Linked DNA regions of Homo sapiens. The protein of the gene in region 1 interacts with the protein of each later gene in a pairwise test. Each region holds a gene or a part of one and is shown in the gene's direction. Other genes may lie near its edges.

What was found.
Region 2: the proteins of SPMIP4 (region 1) and PRPS1 interact in binary tests that used the Homo sapiens proteins (3 or more experiments, as listed by UniProt).
Region 3: the proteins of SPMIP4 (region 1) and KIF1B interact in binary tests that used the Homo sapiens proteins (3 or more experiments, as listed by UniProt).
Region 4: the proteins of SPMIP4 (region 1) and APBB2 interact in binary tests that used the Homo sapiens proteins (3 or more experiments, as listed by UniProt).
Region 5: the proteins of SPMIP4 (region 1) and OIP5 interact in binary tests that used the Homo sapiens proteins (3 or more experiments, as listed by UniProt).
Region 6: the proteins of SPMIP4 (region 1) and KCTD9 interact in binary tests that used the Homo sapiens proteins (3 or more experiments, as listed by UniProt).
Region 7: the proteins of SPMIP4 (region 1) and ATXN3 interact in binary tests that used the Homo sapiens proteins (3 or more experiments, as listed by UniProt).

What each region holds. Positions count from the first base shown.
Region 1 is NC_000007.14:25,163,355-25,166,854, reverse strand, and holds part of SPMIP4 (sperm-associated microtubule inner protein 4), read left to right. Parts: intron 1-3,500. UniProt on the Homo sapiens protein: Microtubule inner protein (MIP) part of the dynein-decorated doublet microtubules (DMTs) in flagellum axoneme. May serve to reinforce and thus stabilize the microtubule structure in the sperm flagella.
Region 2 is NC_000023.11:107,645,510-107,648,517, forward strand, and holds part of PRPS1 (ribose-phosphate pyrophosphokinase 1), read left to right. Parts: intron 1-2,096; coding exon 2,097-2,256; intron 2,257-3,008. UniProt on the Homo sapiens protein: Catalyzes the synthesis of phosphoribosylpyrophosphate (PRPP) that is essential for nucleotide synthesis.
Region 3 is NC_000001.11:10,290,570-10,294,069, forward strand, and holds part of KIF1B (kinesin-like protein KIF1B), read left to right. Parts: intron 1-512; coding exon 513-592; intron 593-1,477; coding exon 1,478-1,553; intron 1,554-3,500. UniProt on the Homo sapiens protein: Has a plus-end-directed microtubule motor activity and functions as a motor for transport of vesicles and organelles along microtubules.
Region 4 is NC_000004.12:40,823,043-40,826,542, reverse strand, and holds part of APBB2 (amyloid beta precursor protein binding family B member 2), read left to right. Parts: intron 1-572; coding exon 573-656; intron 657-2,783; coding exon 2,784-2,899; intron 2,900-3,500. UniProt on the Homo sapiens protein: Plays a role in the maintenance of lens transparency, and may also play a role in muscle cell strength. Involved in hippocampal neurite branching and neuromuscular junction formation, as a result plays a role in spatial memory functioning.
Region 5 is NC_000015.10:41,315,592-41,319,091, reverse strand, and holds part of OIP5 (protein Mis18-beta), read left to right. Parts: intron 1-3,500. UniProt on the Homo sapiens protein: Required for recruitment of CENPA to centromeres and normal chromosome segregation during mitosis.
Region 6 is NC_000008.11:25,427,434-25,430,933, reverse strand, and holds the end of KCTD9 (BTB/POZ domain-containing protein KCTD9), read left to right. Parts: intron 1-960; coding exon 961-1,077; 3' UTR 1,078-3,087; downstream 3,088-3,500. UniProt on the Homo sapiens protein: Substrate-specific adapter of a BCR (BTB-CUL3-RBX1) E3 ubiquitin-protein ligase complex, which mediates the ubiquitination of target proteins, leading to their degradation by the proteasome.
Region 7 is NC_000014.9:92,100,083-92,103,582, reverse strand, and holds part of ATXN3 (ataxin-3 reference isoform), read left to right. Parts: intron 1-3,500. UniProt on the Homo sapiens protein: Deubiquitinating enzyme involved in protein homeostasis maintenance, transcription, cytoskeleton regulation, myogenesis and degradation of misfolded chaperone substrates.

The sequences.
Region 1 (3,500 bases):
GGCATGATCTCAGCTCACTGCAACCTCCCCTTCCTGAGTTCAAGCAATTCTCCTGCCTCAGCCTCCCAGCCTAGCTGGGATTACAGGCGTGTGCCACCACGCCCAGCTAATTTTGTATTTTTAGTAGAGACTAAAACATGGGGTTTCTCCATGTGGATCAGGCAGGTCTCGAACTCCCGACCTCAGGTGATCCACCTGCCTCGGCCTCCCAAAGTGTTGGGATTACAGACATGAGCCACCGCGCCTGGCCAATCCTGTTTTTATTTTTGAGACAGAGTCTTGCTGTGTTGCCCAGGCTCGAGTGCAGTGGCACGATCTCAGCTCACTGCAAGCTCTGCCTCCCAGGTTCATGCCATTCTCCTGCCTCAGCCTCCCGAGTAGCTGGGACTACAGGCGTCCGCCACCACGCCCAGCTAATCTTTTGTATTTTTAGTAGAGACGGGGTTTCACCGTGTTAGCCAGGATGGTCTCGATCTCCTGACCTCATGATCCGCCCACCTGGGCCTTCCAAAGTGCTGGGATTACAGGCGTGAGCCACCACGCCCGGCAATCCTGTTCTTAAACTAACCATTGCTCTCCAGCCTGGGCAACAAGAGTGAAACTCCGTCTCAAAAAAAAAAAGAAGACGGAAAGAAAGAAAAAAGAGCAAGATTATGAGACAAAACTGTGGGATGCCTAGAGAAATAGGCTCATTGTTCGGCATCCAGGAATAGTGGCCAGACTCACTCCCAGGACTGGCCTCATCAGGGAAGAAGTGCCTCTTTAACTGGACACCTCTCCTGCAACCTTATTGGTGGTTTGGATGCCCCTCATGAAGCTCATGTTCTCAGGCTACTCACAGTCAACTCAAAATCTAGTATAGATATGGATGATTGGCAGAACTTAGGGCACATTTGCACCCTGGCTGCTAGGAAGGCTGGGAAGCGGGGTGTTCCAAATGTGGGAAACTAGCAAAATGTAGAGAGGGTATTGTAAAGATGACAGTCTTGAGTGCCAGTGGACTGTCACTCTAAACAACAGCAGCAACAATAGCATGCTTTTCTATTCAATACACGGTACATCGGCATCACCTAGGAAATGGCGAATGCCACATCTCAGCCTCCACCCCAGATTTACTGAAACAGAATCTGCATTTTAACAAGATAACCTCAGATAATTCCAACGTGCAGCAAAGTTGGAGGACCGTTGCTTCAATGTAAGAAAATGCGGCCAGGCGCGGCGGCTCACGCCTGTAATCCCAGCACCTTGGGAGGCCAAGGTGGGCAGATCATGAGGTCAGGAGGCTGAGGCAGGAGAATCACTTAAACCCAGGAGGCAGAGGTTATAGTGAGCCAAGATTGTGCCATTGCACCCCAGCCTGGGCGACAGAGTGAGACTCCGTCTAAAAAAAACAAAAAAGCAACAATTTTCATACAAATGAAAATATACTCACCTCCCCAAAAGCAGAGGCCAAAGGAAAGTGGTTTCCAACTTTGCTATATCCAATTCCAAGTGCCCACTCCTGTCTAGTTCAGTTGTAATCTTGTCCCAATATTCTATACCTATGCTCTCTAATAAAGTTAACCATCACCAATGCATCCTATATGAAATAATAAGGAAAATGAAGAGGAAAAAAGAAAATACATAAAAGTATATAAGACACATCAAGGCAGAAAATAGGAGAAGCGACTGTAGTCCTCATTCCCACACCTGGTCATGAGGCTATCATTGGTGTTATAATTTCCTTCCTCCAGAAAAGAAGTCATTATATGAAAAAGACACTTGTACACACATGTTTATAGCAGCACAATTCGCAATTGCAAAAATACGGAACCAGCCCAAGTGCCCATTAACCGAGTAGATGGAGAAAATGTGGCATAGATATACCATGGAATACTACTCACCATAAAAAGAAATGAAATAATGGCATTCACAGCAACCTGGAGGGAGTTGGAGACCATTATTCTAAGTGAAGTAACTCAGGAATGGAAAATCAGACATTGTATGTTCTCACCTAGAAGTTGGAGCTAAGCTATGAGGATACAAAAGCATAAGAATGATACAATGGACTCTGGGGACTCAGGGGGAAGGTTGGGAAAGGGGTGAGGGATAAAAGACTACACATTGGGTACAGTGTACACTGCTTGGGTGATGGTTACACCAAAATCTCAGAAATCACCAGTAAAGAATTTATTCATTTATTCACCACCTGTTCCCCAAAAACTATTGAAATTAAAAATGCTTTTATAAATAATAATAATTTCCTTCCTTCACTACCTATTCCAAGTTCCCTTGCCCTCAGCAAATACCTGAGCTGGTAGGAGTATGTTACTTGATAGAACAACCCAAAAGTATGTTCTAAGAGATCTTAGCTCTTAGTGGTTCTGCCTGTGTGTAAGGCTGCTATAGTGTTTCATTAACTCCATGCTACTGAAGACAATACTAGGTGTTCAAAAGGTTCCCCAGGTTCCAGAAATACTCCTTTCCCCCATCATTGTGTAATATCCTCTGGCCCTTGATATTCAGGATCAGTCATCCTGCCCAAAATTACCACATCATTATCAATTCAGCTTCCAATGCAATTGGAACCATTGTTGTACCCCCTGATGGAAGCATTTCTCCCTTGACCTCTAAACCACCAAAGCTCGAGGTAGCTGGGGAGGGAGTCAAATTTTCTCAAGTGTAACCATAAGTATAACAGTAAGACGCACCACTCCCACTTCCACTCTTTGGTTTTCAGACCATGCATTCTGGCTAAGGGGGAATCTATTTATTGGTCACTGGTTCAGAGCGTGTCCCACACTCTTTAGGACAACACTTAGCCATAATTGAATATTCAGTAAGCCATCCTAATGTTCGGTAAGTATGGCAAAACCTAACATTCTATCAATACGGTGAATCATTTGAATTCAACCAACTGTTGCCCAATGTCTTTTGCAGTACATTGAGTTCCTTAGTCAAAAATAATATTGTTTAATACGTCATGGCAATGAATGAGACATTTAGTAAGTTTACTGATGATGTTACTTGCAGAGGCACGGTGAGAAGGGAAGGGAAATCCCTATTTTGAAGAAGTGTCTAATCTTATGAGGATAAGTTATCTCTTTGATGATGGAAGGGGTTCAATGTAATTATCCTACCACCAGATGGCTGACTAGTACATCCAGGGATAGGTCACCCTATCAAGTGCTTATGATTGGTCACTTCTGATGGCAAACTCAAATTTGCCAATAGCCAGGTGAGTCTTAGTGAGGGAAGTTCATGTCACTGAGTCCATATGTGATAATTTCTGTGCTGCCGCCATGATCACTTCGTTATGAAGCCACTGAGCAAGCACCAGGGTGACTGGAGAAAACCTGACACACACACAGCTGGTCGTTTTATCTACCTAATTATTGAGAACATACTCAATGGCGTGTTTCTCTAGGTGAGCATTCTTGTGGGGTACAAATAACCCTCACACTCCAGGGCCATTCGGAGGCTGGAAAAAGCAAGTTAAAAAGAATGATGTAGATCTATGT
Region 2 (3,008 bases), on another chromosome or scaffold:
TGTTGAGTACTCTTATTTTTTTTTCAGATTTTCTTATTTTTTAAATTTATATTGTACTAAGCTACATATAACACAATTTGCCATTTTAACTATTTTAAGTGTATAATTCCATGACATTAACTATATTCACAATGTTAGACAACCATCGCCTGATCATCAAAGTTTTTTGATCACCCTGAGTATGCTACATGCGATTGTTTTTTGTTTTAATGAGTTAAAATAAAAATCCTGAGCAGACAGGTGTGTGTGCTCATATTTTTATTTTACCTAAGCCGGAACCCTTGGTCTTACTTCTCGACTGTTTTACCGGCTGCTACTTTTGTTCATTATTACTTCTTTTTTTCACTCTAATCCTGTGATAGGTTAATGTTTATATTACTTGTCATCTCTTGCCTGCAGTGTTCTAAATTGCCTCCCCACTCTGTTCTCCATTGCCAGTCACCGTTCTCTCACCTCCCCACTCCATCTCTCCATGCTTGCTAATCTTCCTGCAACTGAGGCTCGATCCCATCACTCTTTAAGATTTTAAGTGGCCCCTCATTACTAACAATCCAAGCCACTATGAGCAGCATTGTTTCTTAGAATGGTATTTTTACTTTTATTTTTATTTTGAGACATGGTCTCACTCTGTTACCCAGGCTGGAGTGTAGTAGTACAATTACGGCTCACTGCAGTCTTGAAATCTTGGGCTCAAGAAATCCTCCTGTCTCAGACTCCCGAGTAGCTGGGACTACAGGCAAGTGCCACCACACTTGGGTAATTATTTATTATTATTATTATTATTTTTGTAGAGAAGGAGTCCCACTATGTTGCCCAGGCTGTCCTTGAACTCCTGGGCTCAAGCAATTCTCCCACCTCAGCCTCCCAAAGTGCTGGGATTTCAGCTGTGAGCCACAGCACCCAGCCCTGAGAATGGTTTTTTTAAACTTTCTTGTGTCTGTGCCTTGCACAGTGCCTGGCACATAATAGGTGCTAAAAAAAAATTGGGGTGAATGATTCTTGGTTTGGGATCCTGGAGTAAACATTCATAAAACCCATTTCATCCTTGTACAAGTACGGGAATACTAGTCGCTATAACAGATCAACTCCCTAACATGATAGTTTCCTTCTTGTCCATGGCACACTCCAATGCAAGTGTTCTTGTTGGACTCATTTTTTCTAAGCAATAGTTAGGAGCTCAGATTCTTTCAATCTTTGGTGCTATATCTTTAACATGGGGTTTCCAAGATTACCTTGGAAGACATTTCAATTTTGGCCAGCCAGAAAAGGAAAAGAACACAGAGGATCACCCCTGGAAGATTTTTGTTAAGTCCAACCAAAAACTGATGTACATTGTGTCTGCCCACATTTTAATAGCCAGAATTAAGCCACATGGCCACACTGAACTATGTGAGGGAGGCTGGGAAATGTAGTTCAGCTATGTGCCCAGAAAGAAGAGGAAGTGGATTTTGTTAAGTGCAACAGTCTATGCCAGAGTCCTTTGACACTAATTCAGACCTATTCAGATAAGTTCTTAGTGCAGTTCTTTCTCGATATGGACTGAATTGTGTCCTCCCCAAATTCATATATGTTGAGGCCTAACCCCAATGTGATGGTATTTGGAGTTACCTTGAGGGGCACGTATTTAGGATTAGATGAGGTCACTAGGGCAGAGCCCTTACAATGGGATGAATGCCCTTATAAGAAGAGAATGCTGGAGAACTGGCCAGCATTTCCCCATGCGCACGCATGCGTGCACACACACTCACACTCACACACAAAGAGGTCATCTGAGCACACAGCAAAGTGGTGGCCACCTACAAGAGAAGAGGCCTCAGCATGACACCTACTTTGTCTGCACCTTGATCTTGGACTTTAAGCCTCCAGAACTGTGAAAAATTTGTTTCTGTTATTTAAGCCACCCATTCTATGGTATTTTCTTTTCCTTAAAAAAATTTTTCCCCTAACCCACTGTGCCTTATAATATTTTTTATTTTTTTATTTTTTTTCATATGATATTTTGTTGTGGAAGCCTAAGCAGGCTAATATACTCCTCCCTGACTAAAATTCTGCAATGACAAGTAAGATGAATCCAAATCAACATTTTTTCCCTCTAGACTTCTCTCAGCTGGCGCCACCAGAGTTTATGCCATCTTGACTCATGGAATCTTCTCCGGTCCTGCTATTTCTCGCATCAACAACGCATGCTTTGAGGCAGTAGTAGTCACCAATACCATACCTCAGGAGGACAAGATGAAGCATTGCTCCAAAATACAGGTGAGGATGAGATTTGTGCAAAACAAGACTTTTCTAAGTGTTTAGGAGGTGGTTACTTACGTTGAATTAGGTCTCTGGATTCTGAAGATATCTTTCTTTGGTCTGAAGGATTTAGTCTTGTCATCAGAATTTGTGATCCAAAAGTTAACAATCACCTGTTTCTTTTCCTTTTTTTTTTTCTTTTCAAACTGCCAAGCCTTGGGAAAATCACCTGTTTAAAAGTTTAAATTGCTACACCTCAGAATCTCTGGAAGATGGAGCCTAAGATTCTACATTTTAACAGGTTCTCCCAGTGATTCTGATGCAAATTAAAGTTTTCAAGTCCATACTTTACAGTATGTGTTTGTCTGTTAACTATCGGCCCCTGTAGATATAATGTGAAACCTTTAAACTGATTGTACACTTCTACCAACTTTAGTGTTTCTCAGTGTGCTCTGGACCTAAGGTTCTTATTAAAATGTAGATTCCTTTGCTCCATCTAAGACCTATAAAACCAGAGGTCCTGGAACCAGTATTTTAAAGTAATTCCCCAAGTAATTGTTAGAAACTAAAGTTTGAGTGCTCTTGCACTAAAAGAACAAGGCCTTGCTTAATTAAAAATGTTCACATTAATCTATGAGCTTTTTGAAATTAATATGTGTAATTGGAGGATTATCATCTTTTTTTTTTTTTTTTTTGAGATAGGATCTTGCTCTGTTGCCCCAGCCGGAGTGCGCAATCAAAGCTCACTGCAGCCTCAACTTTGAAGGCTC
Region 3 (3,500 bases), on another chromosome or scaffold:
CTCCCGGGTTCATGCCATTCTCCTTCCTCAGCCTCCTGAGTAGCTGGGATTACAGGCGCCTGCCACCATGCCCACGTGGATCACGAGGTCAAGAGCTTGAGACCATCCTGGCCAACATGGTGAAACCCCGTCTCTACTAAAAATACAAAAATTAACTGGGCGTGGTGGCACGTGCCTGTAGTCCCAGCTGCTCGGGAGGCTGAGGCAGGAGAATCACTTGATCCCCAGAGGTGAGGTTGCAGTGATCTGAGATCGCGCCACTGCAGCCTGGTGACAAAGGAAGACTCCGTCTCAAAAAAAAAAAAGACTTGGAGGATTTATTTGTTTGGGGTTGATTTAGTTTTAGGTCTAATCTTTATGATTCTTATCTTATGTATTAATAAAAGAAAAATCTCTTTACATTTAATTCTGGCCTGTATCCTCAAAGGGCATGATTTGCTTCTTGCTTTTCTAGCATGGTATGTTAAATTATAAGACTCTTTGCCTCTTTAACTGTGCGCTTCCTTCCTTAGGAATCAGAGAAGATCATTGCTGAGTTGAATGAAACTTGGGAAGAGAAGCTTCGTAAAACAGAGGCCATCAGAATGGAGAGGTCAGGAGGTTAAAATCTGGAAATGTTTCTAAGTTTTCTAGGGGATGTGGATTACTTTATCGTAAGAAAAGATAAAATATAAATTAAAATCAAAGAGTCTGCCCTTCTAAAACACAAAACGAAACCAAAAAAATGGACAGGGATTTATGGCCAGTTGAATTTATGCTTTGAAATGACATCTACATATTTAAATATTATCTAGGGAGTCACAGGTTTATTAGTTACCATATTACATGTTGCTAGGGATTCATAAAAATGGAACATATTGGCCAGGCGCGGTGGCTCACGCCTGTAATGCCAGCACTTTGGGAGGCTGAGGTGGGCAGATCACGAGGTCGGGAGATCGAGACCATCCTGGCTAGCATGGTGAAACCCCATCTCTACTAAAAATACAAAACAAATTAGCCGGGCATGGTGGTGGGCACCTGTAGTCCCAGCTACTCGGGAGGCTGAGGCAGGAGAATGGCGTGAACCTGGGAGGCAGAGTTTGCAGTGAGCCGAGATGGTGCCACTGCACTGCAGCCTGGGTGACAGCAAGACTCTGTCTCAAAAAAAAAAAAAAGGAATAGCCTCTTCTTTTCTTTTTTATATTAATATGCATATCATTTATGAATTATTGACTATCCCAAAGTCAGTTGAGACAAAGTTCTTATCTCAGTGAATATAACTTTAACAAAGCAAGATTTCATTGATTTTGAATGTGATGTTGCTTTTAGAAATAACTTCTCATTAATGATGAGATAAGCACATTATTTTATGTTTGCATTATTGGCTATAAACATGGCCAGTTGTTTTTGCTTTGCAGGCTTTATTTTCCAATTCATATTAGACTGATTTAATTGACATTTTGGTATTAGTGTTCTGATATACCTGTTTTTTTCCTAGAGAGGCTTTGTTGGCTGAGATGGGAGTTGCCATTCGGGAAGATGGAGGAACCCTAGGGGTTTTCTCACCTAAAAAGGTAGGAAACAATGCTGTGAAACCTAATCAGACAGAGACACTTTTTGTTTGTCTTTGTTACTGGGGCACTTCATGTCTTTCAGGACCTACTCTCCCCCTTATTATCTTGATACTTGCCTTAATTTCAGATATTTCTGATTTCATCTTAGAGCATGGTCTTATAGTACAAAGGCAGCCTATTTCTAAAATGCCTATCTTGTTTACTGTTTACAAAAGAAAAAACCTAAGGCAATATGTAACCTTTGGCCATGATTCAGTTTGTTTAGTCATCTTTATTTGTTGCTTTCTCTTAAATTCCCAGCCTAACCTAGCGTACTTTCAGTTTTGGCTACTCTTTCATGTAGATTTTCCCACAGAAGTCGTCTACCCTGCTTTATAACTTTTTGGAACCAATTTCAGCTGTACAGGTTTGTGGAGAATAATACTGCTTCCATTTGCTTCTGCAATTTGTATTATAGACAGCCATTGTACTAAGTAAAGCAATTCCTGTCCCTATCCTTCTAGACTCCTCTGCTTCCTTCTTCATTTTTTAAAAAGTGTCTCCAATAGTTACCTTCCTTTTTACATAATCATAGTTATGAAGTAGTTACGTAGCTTTTAGCTAATTAGAGTAGTAAGGGTTTTTTTGTTTTTTTCTTAAACTAAGTTGCAACGTCTTGTTGGATACTAGAAAATGACTATCAAATGGTTATTTTGTGTGCTTATGTATCAGAAAATAGGAGAACATATATCGATGTACAAAGCATGTATTTTATGCCACTAGTAAATTGTCCTTTATTTCAAGTGACCTCACATTGGCTATTGGAGACTTAAACATCTTTATTCATAGGTTCTGTTGATGATCTCTCTAAGTTAGGATACAAGGGGTGGTGAGTTTTGAATTGGTACTTTTATGTGATATGAAATATTCCTGTGGTTTTCGCTACAATTCTTCTGGTCAGGTTTTTCTATCCTGGCCACATAACTTTTTTTTTTTTTTCTTCCCAAATTCCAATGTGTTATTTTCAACAGAAAAGACTGATGTAAAGACATTTTAGATGCATATTGTAGAATAGAACAGTTAAGTATTTTATATGTTTATATTATGAAAGGTTAGTGGTTTTCACAGTTTTAATAGTTTTTCCTTCAGTAAGACATGTATTCATTCAGATATGTTACTTAGGATTATATAGATTTTAGCAGTTACAGTTTTGGTGGAATTTAATTGTGCCTATGCATATGTCTAATAAAGGTATTTTATAACATCTTACAGTATTAAAGACTGTGAGGAAATTTTTTTTTTTTTTTTTTTTTGAGACAGAGTCTCACTCTGTCGCCAGGCTGGACTGCAGTGGTGTGATCTTGGCTCACTGCAACCTCCGCCTCCCGGGTTCAAGTGATTCTCCTGCCTCAGCCTCCCAAGTAGCTGGACTGCAGGCACATGCCACCACGCCCAGCTAAGTTTTGTATTTTTAGTAGAGACGGTTTCACCATGTTGGCCAAGGGTGGTCTTGATCTCTTGACTTTGTGATCCACCCACTTCAGCCTCTCGAAGTGCTGGGATTACAGGCATGAGCCACTGTGCCTGGCTGGAAAATTTTTATTATAACAACTAGTGAAAATATTATGCATTTAACATAAATCATAAATAACTTGAACAAATGTTGAGATGTACACTGCATGGAATTCCAAAGTGAGATCTCTGCTTCCAAAGCTTTTTCTTACTTTAATTTTACCCATCTTGCTTTAGCTTTCTAGACTTCTTCATGAAAGGAAGGGATATACCAGTGACCACATCCAAACTCAGTCTTAGGACCTGTTTCTGAGATTCCATTTTTCAAATTATGATGTGCTTTAAAGAATGCTACTCACAAAGGGCTTTGACTTTCTCAAACCAGTCAAGTTCTTCAACTACAAAGGGGGATGCTAGTTGAGAAGATGTGGAGGTTTTTCAGATTTCTCTTTAACC
Region 4 (3,500 bases), on another chromosome or scaffold:
ATGGTGAAACCCTGTCTCTACTAAAATACAAAAAATTAGCCAGGTATGGCAGCATGCACCTGTAGAATTGCTAGAACCCAGGAGATGGAGGTTGCAGCGAGCCAAGATCGCACCACTGCACTCCAGCCTGGGCAACAGAGCGAGACTCTTGTCTCTAAAAAAAAAAAAACGTGGGTTGATTACTGGGGGAACTCAGTTATCTTCCTATGTCTCTGATTGTGCCCTTTGAGGTTACATTTTCTCTGGGCATCAACCACACCTAATTAAATAGGACACCAAAAGCTGCTACTTTACTTAATATACATCAAAGAGACAGTAGCAGCTTTAACACATAGATGCCACTTCCTGCTTTCACATGCATTCCTATCTTGAAAGTTGAACAGGATTTTAACAGAGCCCCAATATCTGGAGTAATGCTGCTCTTGTAGAATAGTTGTTACATTTACATCCAGAAACATAGGGCGTTATGGCACAGGGCGTGTCCTGAGCATTCAGATGATGCAGAGCCACGGCTGTTGTGTACATGTGTGTTGGAACCACTGAGAAAGATGTGTTGCTTTTGTTCCCTGTAGTAGATTTTCCAACACCAAAGACTGAGCTGGTCCAGAAGTTCCACGTGCAGTACTTGGGCATGTTACCTGTAGACAAACCAGTCGGTATGTGAAATGTTTATTGTCTTTCCACTTTGCAAGTGTGCGGGAGCTCACAGGAGGCGTTCGCCCTCCGAGGAGGGTGAGGTCTGCTGTTTACTCTCACGCCTTGTCTTGAATCAAACTGTCACACTGTCACCTGCCAGAGAACATAAACGGTCCTGATCAAAAGATGAGTAGAGGGACAGGCCCCGCTGCTTTGACCTGTCATCCCCAGCATGCAGGACTTTAGCAATACAGACGTGGATTTCTTGTTTACCCAGTAGTCCAGAGCTGTGTGACTCAGGGCCGTGGAAGAGCTCCGCTGCTCTGAAACGAGGCCTCCATCTCTGAGGCCAGGGCACCTGCTTCGTGTCTTGTCAGCTGGCGGGCCAGGAGAAAGGACTGTGGAGGCTTCATGCTGTCAAGGAGTGACACAGTAGTGGCACACACAGCATTCAGCTCACATGCCAGGGGCAGAGTGTAGTTGCTGGGCTATACCAAGCCAAAAAGAGACTGGGAGATGAAGCCTTCACCAGGGCTAAAAAAGGCTGTGGAGAAATCGCAAGCTACATATACTGCCAAGGGGGCTGTAAGATGGTGCAGCTGCTTTGGAAAACAGTCTGGCATTCTTCAGAAGGTGAAACATAGTTACTTTAGACCCAGCAACTCAGTTCCTAGGCGTAGACCCAAGAGAAGTGAAAACGTTTGTGCATGCAAAAACGTGTATGCAAATGTTCACAGCAGAATTATTGATGAGAGTCAAAAAGCGAAACAACCTGAATGTCCTGACAAATCAACTGACAATTAGATAAATAAGATGTGATACTTCCATACAGTGGAATTTTATTTGGCAATAAAAAGGAATGAAGGACTGAAGTGCGCTGTAGCGTGGATGAAGCCTGAAAACATGCTATGAGGGAAGTCAGTCCCAAAAGACTGCATACTGTGTGATTACGTTCATATGAAACGCCCAAAATAGGCAGAGCTCTAGCGTCAGAAAGTAGGTAAGGGTTGCCTTGGTCTAGGGGTCTGGGGAGTGGGGGAAAAATGCAGAATGACCCCTACCAGGCACGGGGTTTCTCTTTGGGGTGATGAAACTGTTCTAAAATTGATTATGGTAGGTCTAGCATGGTGGCTCACACCTGTAATCTCAGCACTTTGGGAAGCCAAGGCAGGTGGATTGCTTGAGCCCAGAAGTTCAAGACCAGCCCAGGCAACATGGCAAAACCTCATCTCTACAAAAAAAATTCAAAAAATTAGCTGGGCATGGTGGCATGTACCTGTAGTCCCAGCTACTCCAGAGGCCGAGGTGGGAGGATCATCTGAGCCTGGGAGGCTGAGGCTACAGTGAGCCGTGATTGTACCACTGCACTCCAGCCTGGGTGACAGAGCAACACCCTGTCTCAAAAAAAAATTGATGATGGTGATGGGTGCGCTCTGTGAATGTACTAAAATCCACTGGATTGCACACTTTACGTGAGTGAATTGCATGTGAATGATACCTCAATAAAGCTGTCACTCCCACCCCTATCCCCCAGAAAAACTGTGGAAACAGCTGGCAAAAGGGCCCTACTCAATGGGGGGATCCACTGTAAAGGTGCCATCAAGAGACAGTGAGGGTGGAGAGAGGCTGAAGGGCCATGGTCTGCATAGGTAGACAGCGTCTAAGGCACCAGGTCCCCGGAGCTTCTCCTGACTCTCCTCTCCTACTGAAAAGGCTGTTATTTCTTTTTTTTCTTTTTCTTTTTTTGTTTTTTGAGACAGAGTCTCACTGATACTTGCCCAGGCTGGAGTGCAGTGGTGCGATCTCAGCTCACTGCAGCCTCCGCCTCCTGGGTTCAAGCAAGCATGTCCAGCTAATTTTTGTATTTTTAGTAGAGACAGGGTTTCACCGTGTTGGCCAGGCTGGTCTCGAACTCCTGACCTCAAATGATCCTGGCTCAGCCTCCCAAAGTGCTGAGATTACAGGCGTGAGCCACTACGCCCGGCCAGAAGCTGGTATTTCATTCCTGTTGAGCAAACATGAGAATGAAGTGTCCTGTCTATTAAAAAAAGATCAGTCTGGGCGTAGCTGTTATTGGTGATTTGGGCCCACATTTGAGTGTGGTAAGTGGCTTTAGGACACTTTAAATTATCCTTTTCTGTCCCCAGGAATGGATATTTTGAACAGTGCCATAGAAAATCTTATGACCTCATCCAACAAGGAGGACTGGCTGTCAGTGAACATGAACGTGGCTGATGCCACTGTGACTGTCATCAGTGAAAAGGTGAGAAGGAATCTTCGATGACATTGGTGTGTCTTATACAGTGAGTATAAGATACAGTGGTTTTCTGTGGAACTTAGGAACATAGTCAAGGCCGGAGTTGTGCATCCTTGTGATTAAGATGGCCTACATTTGAAAGATTTGGCCCTTTGTCTGGGTCTAAATCTGTGCATACCTCTGTTTTCCTGTGGCCTGAGAAACTTCTCTTCTGGTGCTTCTGATTCTGTCTTCCTCATGTGCCCCAGAGAGAAATTGTTTGCTAGAGGTGAGTGTGTGACGCTAGTAGTCGCTCACTCTCAGGGCGCCAGTATTGCCTGGGCTGTGTGATCTGGGGATGAAAAGCAGAAGATGCTTCCATTTGGGAGAGTCCTGTGACTATCAGTAGCAGAAGGAGCTATTGGTTGTCTTGAGAAGAGGCCACATTAGCCTCAGCCCAAATTATCTCAGTTTCGTGGTTGAAGAAATTGAAGCACAGAGAGGCTAAGTCATTTGCCCAGCATCACACAGTTGGAAGCAATGGAATCAGGACTTAAATCCAGGCAACCTGGCCCAGACTTGTGCCCACTTTTCTATTCTGCCTCTGTGAAGCACCTGCCAGGGAAAG
Region 5 (3,500 bases), on another chromosome or scaffold:
CTCAAAAAAAAAAAAAAGAAAAAAGACAAAGTGTTTGTACCAAAAAGATGCTAAAGTCAGGCACTGTCTTTGACAAAAAGATAGCAGTGGGCCAGGTGTGATGGCTCGCGCCTGTAATGCCAATGCTTTGTGAGGCCAAGGTGGGAGGACTGCTTGAGGGCAGGAGTTCAAGACCTCCATGGGCAATATAGTGAGACTCCTGTTTTTTTTTTATACAAAATTTTAAAAAATTAGCTGGATGTGGCGGCGTGCCCCTATAGTCCCAGTTACTTGGGAGGCTGAGGTGGGAGGATCACCTGAGCCCAGGAGTTCAAGGTTACATTTTGCTGTGATCATACCACTGCATTCCACTTTGGGTGACAAAAAAAAAAAAAAGCAGTGGGACCAAAATATAATCTTATAACATTATGATTATCTTCCATGTCTTATCATACCATATCTTAAAAGTCATACCATGGGAAAATTCAGAGGGTATTCTTTCATTAAAGAAACTTGTTGCCAGATGTGGTGGTGTGTGCCTGTAATTCTAGCTACCCAGGAGGCTGAGGCAGGAGGATCACTTGAATCTTGGTGTTTGAGACCAGCCTAGGCAACATGGTGAAGCCTCCCATCTCAAACTGCTCCCTTATGGGCCGGGTGCAGTGGCTCACGCCTGTAATCCCAGCACTTTGGGAGGCTGAGGTCGGGGGTTCACCTGAGGTCAGGAGTTCGAGACCAGCTTGGCCAACATGGTGGAACCCCATCTCCATTTAAAATACGAAAATAAGCCAAGTGTGGTGGCACACGCCTGTGGTCGCAGCTACTCGGGAGGTGAGGCAGAAGAATTGCTTGAACCCAGGAGGCGGAGGTTGCAGTGAGCCAAGATCAAGCCACTGCACTTCAGCCTGGGTGACAGAGCTAGACTCTGTCTCAGAAAAAATAAAAATAAATAAAAGATAAAAAGAACATTCTAGAAGGCAAGCTTTTGCAAAATAATGTTGCAGTAGATACCTTTTGGGTTTGTGCCCAGCCTCTCTCTCCCTCTAATAGGTGGGGCCTTGTATATTTGTATCATGTGTGATTTGTATCATGTGTGATTCCCACTCCCAGGTACTGGATCAAGAATGAATACCTGGCCAGGCATGGTGGGTCATGCCTGTAATCTCAGCACTTTGGAAGGCTGAGTTGGAGGATTGTTTGAGCTTAGGAGTTTGAGACCAGCCTAGGCAACATAGCAAGACTCTGTCTCTACAAAAAATTTAAAATATTAACTGTGTATGGTGGTGTATGCCTGTAGTCCTAGCTACTCTGGAGGCTAAGGTGGGAGGATAGCTACAGCCCAGGAGTTCAAGGTTACAGTGAGCTATGATTGTGTCACTGTATTCTAGCATGGGGAGCAGAGCAAGACCCTGTCTCTTAAAAACCAAAAACGGTGCTGGGCGTGGTAGCTCACGCCTGTAACCCCAGTACTTTGGGAGGCCGAGGTGGGCAGATCATGAGGTCAGGAGATCGAGATCATCCTGGCCAACATGGGAAACCCCGTCTCTACTAAAAATACAAAAAAAATTAGCTGGGCATGGTGGCGCATGCCTGTAATCCTAGCTACTTGGGAGGCTGAGGCAGGAGAATCACTTGAACCGGGGAGTCAGAGGTTGCAGTGAACCAAGATCGCGCCACTGCACTCCAGCCTGGCAACAGAGCGAGACTCTGTCTCAAAAAAAAAAAAAAAAAGAAAAATGGATACCTGACCCAAACTAAGCCAACCAGTTTTCTACCTTAGGAATTTGAAACAAGGGCCCAGAAATACCAGTTACGTGTAGATAGTACTAGTGTTGAAGTTTGGAAGTGAAAGCTCTATGTATGGGATAGCTATTTCCCATGTGATGCATGTAGCTGCAGGGAAGTCTTCTCTGCAGTAAAACATGAAGCAGACACAGAGAAAAGTAAAAATAATGATCATGTAGCCTCATAGTGTCAGAAAAACTACCCTACTGGTTATCCTTTCTCATGAATTACATTGGCTATTTCATTATTTTCCTAATAAATTGCACTTTTAACTTAAGCTTTTTTACTTATTACAAGAAACTGAAACATCCTTAGAAGTCTTTCCTTGACCATTAAAAAACAAAAACAAGCATTGACAACCTAGTTTATGTAGGCATTATGCTTATATCACTGAGTTCTTAATATAGTTTAAGAAAACTAGGGCTCAAAGAGGTGGAAGAGCTGAGATTTGAGCATGTCTTAACTCAAAAGCTTATTTTCCTTTCATAAAACTAAAAGGTTTCCTTTTTCTCATGTCTTTTTTTTTTTTTTTTTTTTTGAGATGGAGTCTTGCTGTGGCGCCCAGGCTGGAGTGCAGTGACGTGATCTTGGTTCACTGTAAGCTTCACCCCCTGGGTTCACACCATTCTCCTGCCTCAGCCTCCCAAGTAGCTGGAACTACAGGCGCCCACCACCACGCTTGGCTAATTTTTTGTATTTTTAGTAGAGACGGGGTTTCACTGTGTTAGCCAGGATGGTCTCGATCTCCTTGACCTCGTGATCCGCCCGCCTTGGCCTCCTAAGGTGCTGGGATTACAGGCATGAGCCACCGCGCCCGGCCGCTTTTTCTCATTTCTTATGCTTAGATAGATGTTTTTAGCTGAGTTATGGTTGACTAAACAATAAAACTTATCAGCCAGTCCTTTACCATGGGTTGCTCACTGTGCATTAGGTATACCATTTGTTCTTCATTGCAAATTTCCAACACAAAATATATACCTGAGATCCTGAGATGGATTGATCATTCTCTTTTTTTAAAGACGGAGTCTCACTCTGTCACCCAGGCTGGAAGTGCAATGGCATGATCTCAGCTCACTGCAACCTGCACCTCCTGGGTTCAAGTGATTCTCCTGCCTGGGCTTCCCAAAATGTTAAGATTACAGGCATTAATCACCATGCCCAGCCTCAATTTTTAGATTCTTTTTTTTTTTCTTTGAGACGGAGTCTTGCTCTTTCGCCCAGGCTGGAGCTGGAGTGCAGTGGCACCATCTCGGCTCACTGCAAGCTCCGCCTCCCAGGTTCACGCCATTGTCCTGCCTCAGCCTCCCGAGTAGCTGGGACTACAGGCGCCCGCCACCATGTCTGGCTAATTTTTTTGTATTTTTAGTAGAGACGGGGTTTTACCGTGTTAGCCAGCATGGTCTTGATCTCCTGCCTTGGCCACCTAAAGTGCTGGGATTACAGGTGTGAGCCACTGCGCCACCAATTTCTAGATTCTTAAGCAATTTCTATTTAGAATTAACTTTAAAGTGGGAAAAAAAACTGTAAATGTGTGCTGTTAGTAATCCCACATCTTTTTTAGAAATCAGTACAAAAGTAAATGTTCTAGAGAAGCAATAATTGCATTTTTGTTAGGGCAGTAAGCTTTTAGTAACATATTTTTAACATAAATTTGAAAAGCATTATGGGATTTTGGTTAATTTCTTAATCTTTAAAATGAGTTGGATAAAAGGTCAGGACATTCTTTTTGATTAAGT
Region 6 (3,500 bases), on another chromosome or scaffold:
AGCTCGAATCCTGGAGGTGGAGGTTGCAGTGAGCCGAGATTGCACTCCAGCCTGGGCAACAAGAGCAAAACTCCGTTTCAAAAAAAAAATTGTGTGTGTGTGTGTGTGTGTGTGTGTGTGTGTGTATTTATTATGTTGGAATCCATTCTGTATTTTAAATCAGTGGTCCCCAACCTTTTTGGCACCAGGGACTGGTTTTGTGGAAGAAAATATTTTCACAGATCAGAGTCGGGGGCTGGTTTTGGGATGATTCAAGCGCGTTACATTTATTGTGCACTTTATTTCTACTAGTATTACATTGTAATACATAATGAAATAATTATATAACTCACCATAATGTAGAATCAGTGGGAGCCCTGAGTTTGTTTTCTTGCAACTAGACAGTCCCATCTGGGGGTGTTGGAGACAGTGACAGATCATCAGGCATTAGATTCTCATGAGGAGTACCCCACCTAGATCCCTCACATGTGCAGTTCACAATAGGGTTCACGCTCCTGTGCGAATCTAATGCCCCTGCTGATCTGACAGGAGGTGGAGCTCAGGCTGTAACTTGAGCCATACAGGGACTGGCTGTAAATACAGATGAAGCTTCATCTACTGGTGACCTCCTGCTGTGTGGCCTGATTCTTAACAGGCCATGGACCAGTATCAGTCTGTGGCCCAGGGGTTGGGGACCCCTGTTTTCAATGTCTCCTTATAAAATATGCAAGAACAAGGGACATGCTTCCTCTTTAACCTTTGTTTATACATATTTATGGTGATCAGCCTGAACTAGAGGTAACAAATAAAGATAGAAGAACATCTTAATTTAGGGTGGTGTATCATCAGTTTTCCGGAAATTAACTGAGTTTTATTGTATAAGAACATTTTCCTAATCTGCCCCAGAAATCATTTTGAGCAGAAATAGATAAGGCCTGAAATTTCCACATGAATTACATGAATATTGTTTTCATCTTGCAGAATTGTGATCTGTCTGGGTGTGATCTTCAAGAAGCCAACCTGAGAGGGTCCAACGTGAAGGGAGCTATATTTGAAGAGATGCTGACACCACTACACATGTCACAAAGTGTCAGATGAGAATTTTAGGGGCTGGAGGAAGATGTAAAAGATGAAAATGTTTTCCTTATCACTTTTCTTTCTCCACCCACTCAGTTGTCTAGAAGAAATAACACTGTAAGGAAATTTAAAAAAAAAACATTTAGAGGATTATGCTTGTTTTGAGTGGTGCATAAGGGAAAAAACTGACTTTTTTTCCATATTCTGATTTTTAACAGAAAAGCACTCATTTAATAGATGTAGGGAAACTAGATATTGCTGCCTTTTGAATGGGGTAGGGGGGTTTACCTGGTTTTATGACCAGGCATAGTATCTATTATATTTGCTTTTAAATAGGCATGATGTGGAAATACCATCTTGGTTTGAGATGCATTTGAGGATTTTAATTTATGGAAAGCACAACATATGCAATTATATTTATTGAATTCCTAGATGCAGTATGGATATTTAAATTGTTAAAACTTTATGAAAACTTGGAAAAGGTTGTTCAGGTTTATAAATAGCTTTAGTGATGCCTCCCCTCTTTAAATACCTGTCACACCGTATGAATATGGTGAGATCAGACTCCCTAAGACTCTTTTCAGGTTCATTTTTATAATGTTTACTTTTTAGGACAGAACAGTAGCTAAATTAAAGTAATATCCAGTTCTTACTGATTGAGACAGAGTGGAAAGAAAGACATCATTGTACATCACTGTCATTCCAAAGGTACAGTGTAACTCTGGATGGAGGAATAACTTACCTATCACTACAACACTTACAAATGAGAATTTCTCAGAATTTCATTCTAGGCAAGTTCCACTCAACACCAGATCAAGCAATTCTATCTATTTACACTATTAGCCTAGTTTTCTCATACAGTCATCACAAGCATAGGAAGATACTTCAAAACCAAAAAAACCAAGGTGCATCATTAATATTCATTTAATTCAAATACCAAATAGTTTACATAGGGCCAGCTTAGAAATAGATACTAAATCCAGAGCTACTGCAATCAAAGCTTATATGAGTGAATATGGTAGAGTTGCCTGCTAAAAGGCAATGTAATATAATTGCAGCTAGAACCCTACAGTGGGGAATGAGGAATTTTAAACACACATTTGATTACAGCCACCAAAAAAATAGACGTAAAAATAAAGGCATTTGGCTGGTCCAAGATGTAATTATCAATCAGTCAGCACCTGTGATTCTTTTACTTATTTTTTTGTGGTTTTTTTTTTTTAAACAAATTTTAGCCCAATTTTCTTGAGTCATTCTCTCTCTGCAGCAGCAGAGGAAGGGCCTGTACCTCCCTACCAATGACTTGGTGTCCTTATTTTCTACCCCAAGAGCAGGGATATTAGCTGTGTCCAAATGGGTTCTGAATTCTACAGACTCATCAACATGAGGCAAGGAATCATTGAAAACCACCTGTGTCTCCTTTGGGAGAATGACATATCTTTAGTATTTACGTAGCTTATTCTTCTATATCTACATATGCAAAGCTTTCCTTAACAGTAAAGGGTACATATGCATAGTGGGAGGAGATCAGACCTTTACAAGTGAAGGAAAGCAACTTCAGAAATGAATTATTTTCTTTGCTTTATTATTTTTACCAAGACAGAGAAGTATTGTATTGAGAGATAATCTATTTTCATAATCAATATGTGCCTAAATTATATTTAAATCATTTCACTCTGTACTATATTTTCAGGAATTACAGAATGTGGTATTCATTCACTTAAAGGTACCTCTGTAGAAATAACCTAAAACTGCAGAAGGATCTGAAAGATCTAAACATGGTGTGCTTAGAAACTGCAGATTTTAGATCTAATGTATACTGCATTAATAAATGATATAAAGTGTTTGTTGAAAAGGAGTTTCTTCTCTTCCTTTTGAAAATCATCACTTTCTGTATTTTGCTTACATTTCTTCAATATGTGTTGACAACCAGCCCTGTGGTTCTGGGTAGCAAAGGAAATACAGTATAACTTAATTTGTTATGGATTAGTCTTTTTGAAAGTACCATTAAAGTAAATTTATTTCTTTAAACATGATTATTTTTATCATTCTTTTAAAAATACACCATGCTAACAACACAAACCTTATGAATTCTGAACAAAAGAAAAGACTGCCTCCCCAATAATTCGTTTAATTTGTTTGTGTTAAATTCATCACTCTTTAGGTGATGAATATTACCAGTTAGCTTTATTAGACTGGATAAATAGCATGCCCCAAAACATTTTTTGCCTGATAACTAGGATAGAGAATTTTAAGGAGGGAAGAAACCGTTAAAATAGTAAAACTTCCATTAACCCTAGAGATGAAACATGTCTGTACACATAGGTAAAAATACAGCTGTTGGGATGACAGGAAAAAGGTTTTAAATCAAAATTAAACTAGCTGGATTATCTGCATTAATAAAATTTGGTACTCAACTAAGCAATACTATCTATTGTAGTCTA
Region 7 (3,500 bases), on another chromosome or scaffold:
GTTAGCACATGCCTGTAGACTTGGGAGGCTGAGGTGGGAGGATTGCATGAGTCTGGGAGGTCGAGGCTGTAGTGAGCCATGATCGCACCACTGCACTCCAGCCTAGGGGACAGAGCAAGATCCTGTCTCAAAAGAAAAAAATGTATATATTTGAATGGATAAAGAGATGGCTTTGAGTTTCTGAGATATATATGGTGCTGTTTATCTAAAGTAAACAAGTTTTCTGTAAATATTTTAAGGCTTTGCAGGCCAGCTGTAGTCTCTGTCACACATTCTTATTTGTGCATGTTTTTCCCAACCATGTAAAAATGTAAAGTGCATTCTTAGCTACTGGGGCAGGTTGAATTTGGCCCATGGGCTAGAGTTTGCCAACCCCTAACTTAAACCTTTGTACTAACTTTATGACCACTACTGGATTTTTGTTGTTGTTTGTTTTAGTTCTGGTGCCTGCTTTGTTTTTTTTTTTTTTTTTAATCCTCTTGCTGATGTTTCTTGGTGCAGTTACTGTGCCATTTGTATTGGTGCTTTTAATGTAATGCAAACTGGTAATAATATCTAAACTTGCTGGGGTTGTACATAAAATTATTGAAAAGATTGAAAAGATGCTGAGCATTGACTCTGTGGCATTCATTATGCCCTTTTGTGATTGCTGGATTTTAGCCATCTTTAGGACATTTGAGCTTTAGGAGAAGCCAAATTCTGTATAAATGACTTGAAGTGCTAATAGCACAGGTTTTGAAACCTCTGCCTGGGTTTGAGTCTCAGCTCTGCCTTTTACTACCTGTGTGATCCTGAGCAAGTTACTTAGTATCCCTGTCCTCTAGTTTCCTCCTCTGTAGTGTGGGGATAATAACATAGACATAACCTGAGAGTTAGAGTGTAGAGAAGGCTCCCTGGCAGATAGTGCTGTAGAAGTACTGGCCATTGCCATTACTCAGGTGCTTGTGTTTGCTGAACCTCATAGTAAGGGCTCGGAGAGCACTAAGAGGAGGTGAGAAATGCTGCTAGATTGACAGCTTGTCCCCAGATAGCCCATTCCCGAGAGCACCTTAGGTTTATACCTGATTTGTGTTGTAGTTAGTAGTGTCTCTGGTAATTTGAACTAGTTTCAGGTTGGTCTTGAAAACCTGGGGAGGTTGGGGGTAAATGATTTGGTAGCAGTTCTCTTTTGTGATTTTATACATTATCTTTGTAGAACTGCAGTTTGCTAATTCTCTGAGCCCAACACAATGAAGTCTGGGCCTAAAATCATAGAATTTCTTTTATTTTTTTTTTTGTTTTTAATTTATTTATTCCCTCCCTCCCTCCTTTCTTCCTTTCTTCCTTTTCTTTCTTTCTTTCCTTCCTTCCTTCCTTCTTTCTTTTCTTTCTTTCTTTTCTTTCTTTGGAGTCTCACTCTGTCACCAGGCTGGAGTGCAGTGGCACGAACTTTCTTCAGAGTCTCACTTTGTCACCAGGCTGGAGTGCAGTGGCGCGAACTCAGCTCACTGCAACCTCCGTCTCCTGAGTTCAAGAGATTCTCCTGCCTCAGCCTCCCGAGTAGCTGGGACTATAGGCATGTGCCACCATGCCCAGCTAATTTTCTTATTTTTAGTAGAGACGAGGTTTCACCATGTTGGCCAGGATGGTCTTGATCTCTTGACCTCGTGATCCACCTGCCTCAGCCTCCCAAAGTGCGGGGATTACAGGCGTGAGCTACCACGCCCAGCCTATTTTTTATTTTTTGAGGCAGAGTCTCACTCTGTCACCCAGGCTGGAGTGCAGTGGTGCAATCTCAGCTCACTGCAACCTCCGCCTCCTGGGTTCAGGTGATTCTCCTGCCTTAGCCTCCTGAGCACCTGGGACTACAGGCGCCTGCCACCACACCTGGCTAATTCTTATATTTTTAGTAGAGGCGGGGTTTCACCATGTTGGCCAGGCTGGTCTCGAACTCCTGATCTCAAGTGATCAACCTGCCTTGGCCTCCCAAAGTGCTGGAATTACAGCCATGAGCCACCATGCCCAGCCAAATCATGAGATTTCAATACCGCTGAACTTTGATTATGGCAAAGTGAACTTCTGCTTTGATTAAAGCTTGATGAGAGAGGTGGCTGGGGATAGTTTGAGATAAGGGCAAGGCAGGAAAATGCATAATCTTACGTGGGCTCATTGTCATTGTACAATTCTTTTGGTCCATGTGGAATTTGATCCGTCCTATGACTTAAGTTATGTTTATTTTTGTTTTTATTTTTATTTATTTTGTGTCTTTTTGAGAGACATGATGTTGCTCTGTCACCTGGGCCAGAATACAGTGGCACAATCTTAGCTCCGTGTAGCCTTGAACTCCTGGGCTCAAGTGATCCTCCCACCTCAGCCCCTCAAACAGTTGAGATTATAGTATGAACCACTGTGCCTAGCCTTAAGTGATTTTTAAATTTGTACTGAACAGTTTGTCCTTTCCTTCCATTAAATCATATTAGAAGTACAGAACTTGATATTTCCTGTAGCAATACAGTTTTTCTTTGATGAAGTTTGATTTCAAGTACTTATTTTTCATAATTTAAAGCTATTTTTTATAGAGAGAATTTTAATCAAATATTTGGATGTCACTATTGCTATATATGGTATTAAGTATGGTGACCATAGTTTGTAAACTCCAAACTGACAGCAAGACAGGAAATTTGTGTTAGCAAAGGCTTTTTTCTTACTGTTTGAATTTTTTAAAAATTAGATACAATACAGAGAGGAGCACACAAATCATTAAGAGTACAGCTCAGCGAATTTTCACACAGTGAACATGTGTAAACAGCAAGTAACAAAAGATTTACCTGCATCCTATAACCTCCCATTATTCCCTTTTCTAGGTACTGTCTCTCCACTGCATTCCCACCAAATATAACCACTATGCTGAATTCTGACATCATAAATGAGTTTTGCCTGATTTTGAGCTTTTGTGACTGGAAGTGTACAGTGTATATACCCTTTCGATTCTGTCCTCTTTAGTTTACCATTGTTTGAGAAATTTATCCATACTGTTCCAGAATTAACTACTGTTAATTATTGTTAATTAACTACTGTTGTAGTTAATTCATCCTCATTGTTATCTAGTATTCTTTTGTGAGTAAACACAATTTCCATTCTACTGTGATCCCAGCTATCCATTTGGGTCGTTTCCAGTTTGGGGTCCATTACAAATAGTAATGCTATCTGTAATGCTATTTTGTATTACTACAAATAGTAATGCTATTTGTGGCACAAAAATACTGCTTTTGTGAACATTCTTATACATGTCTTTTGATGAATGTATGTTTGCATTGCTGTTGTTTACATTATGTACCTAGTAATGGAATTGCTAGATCATAGGAGATGTATATATTAAGCTTTAGTGGATGCATTACATAATTATTAGTTATTATTGGTTATACCAATTTATCCTCTCATCAGTAGTATACAACAGTTTCTGTATCTCTAATCTCCAACATTTTAGCCATTTTAGAGTTTGTGTACTAACACATTGTGGT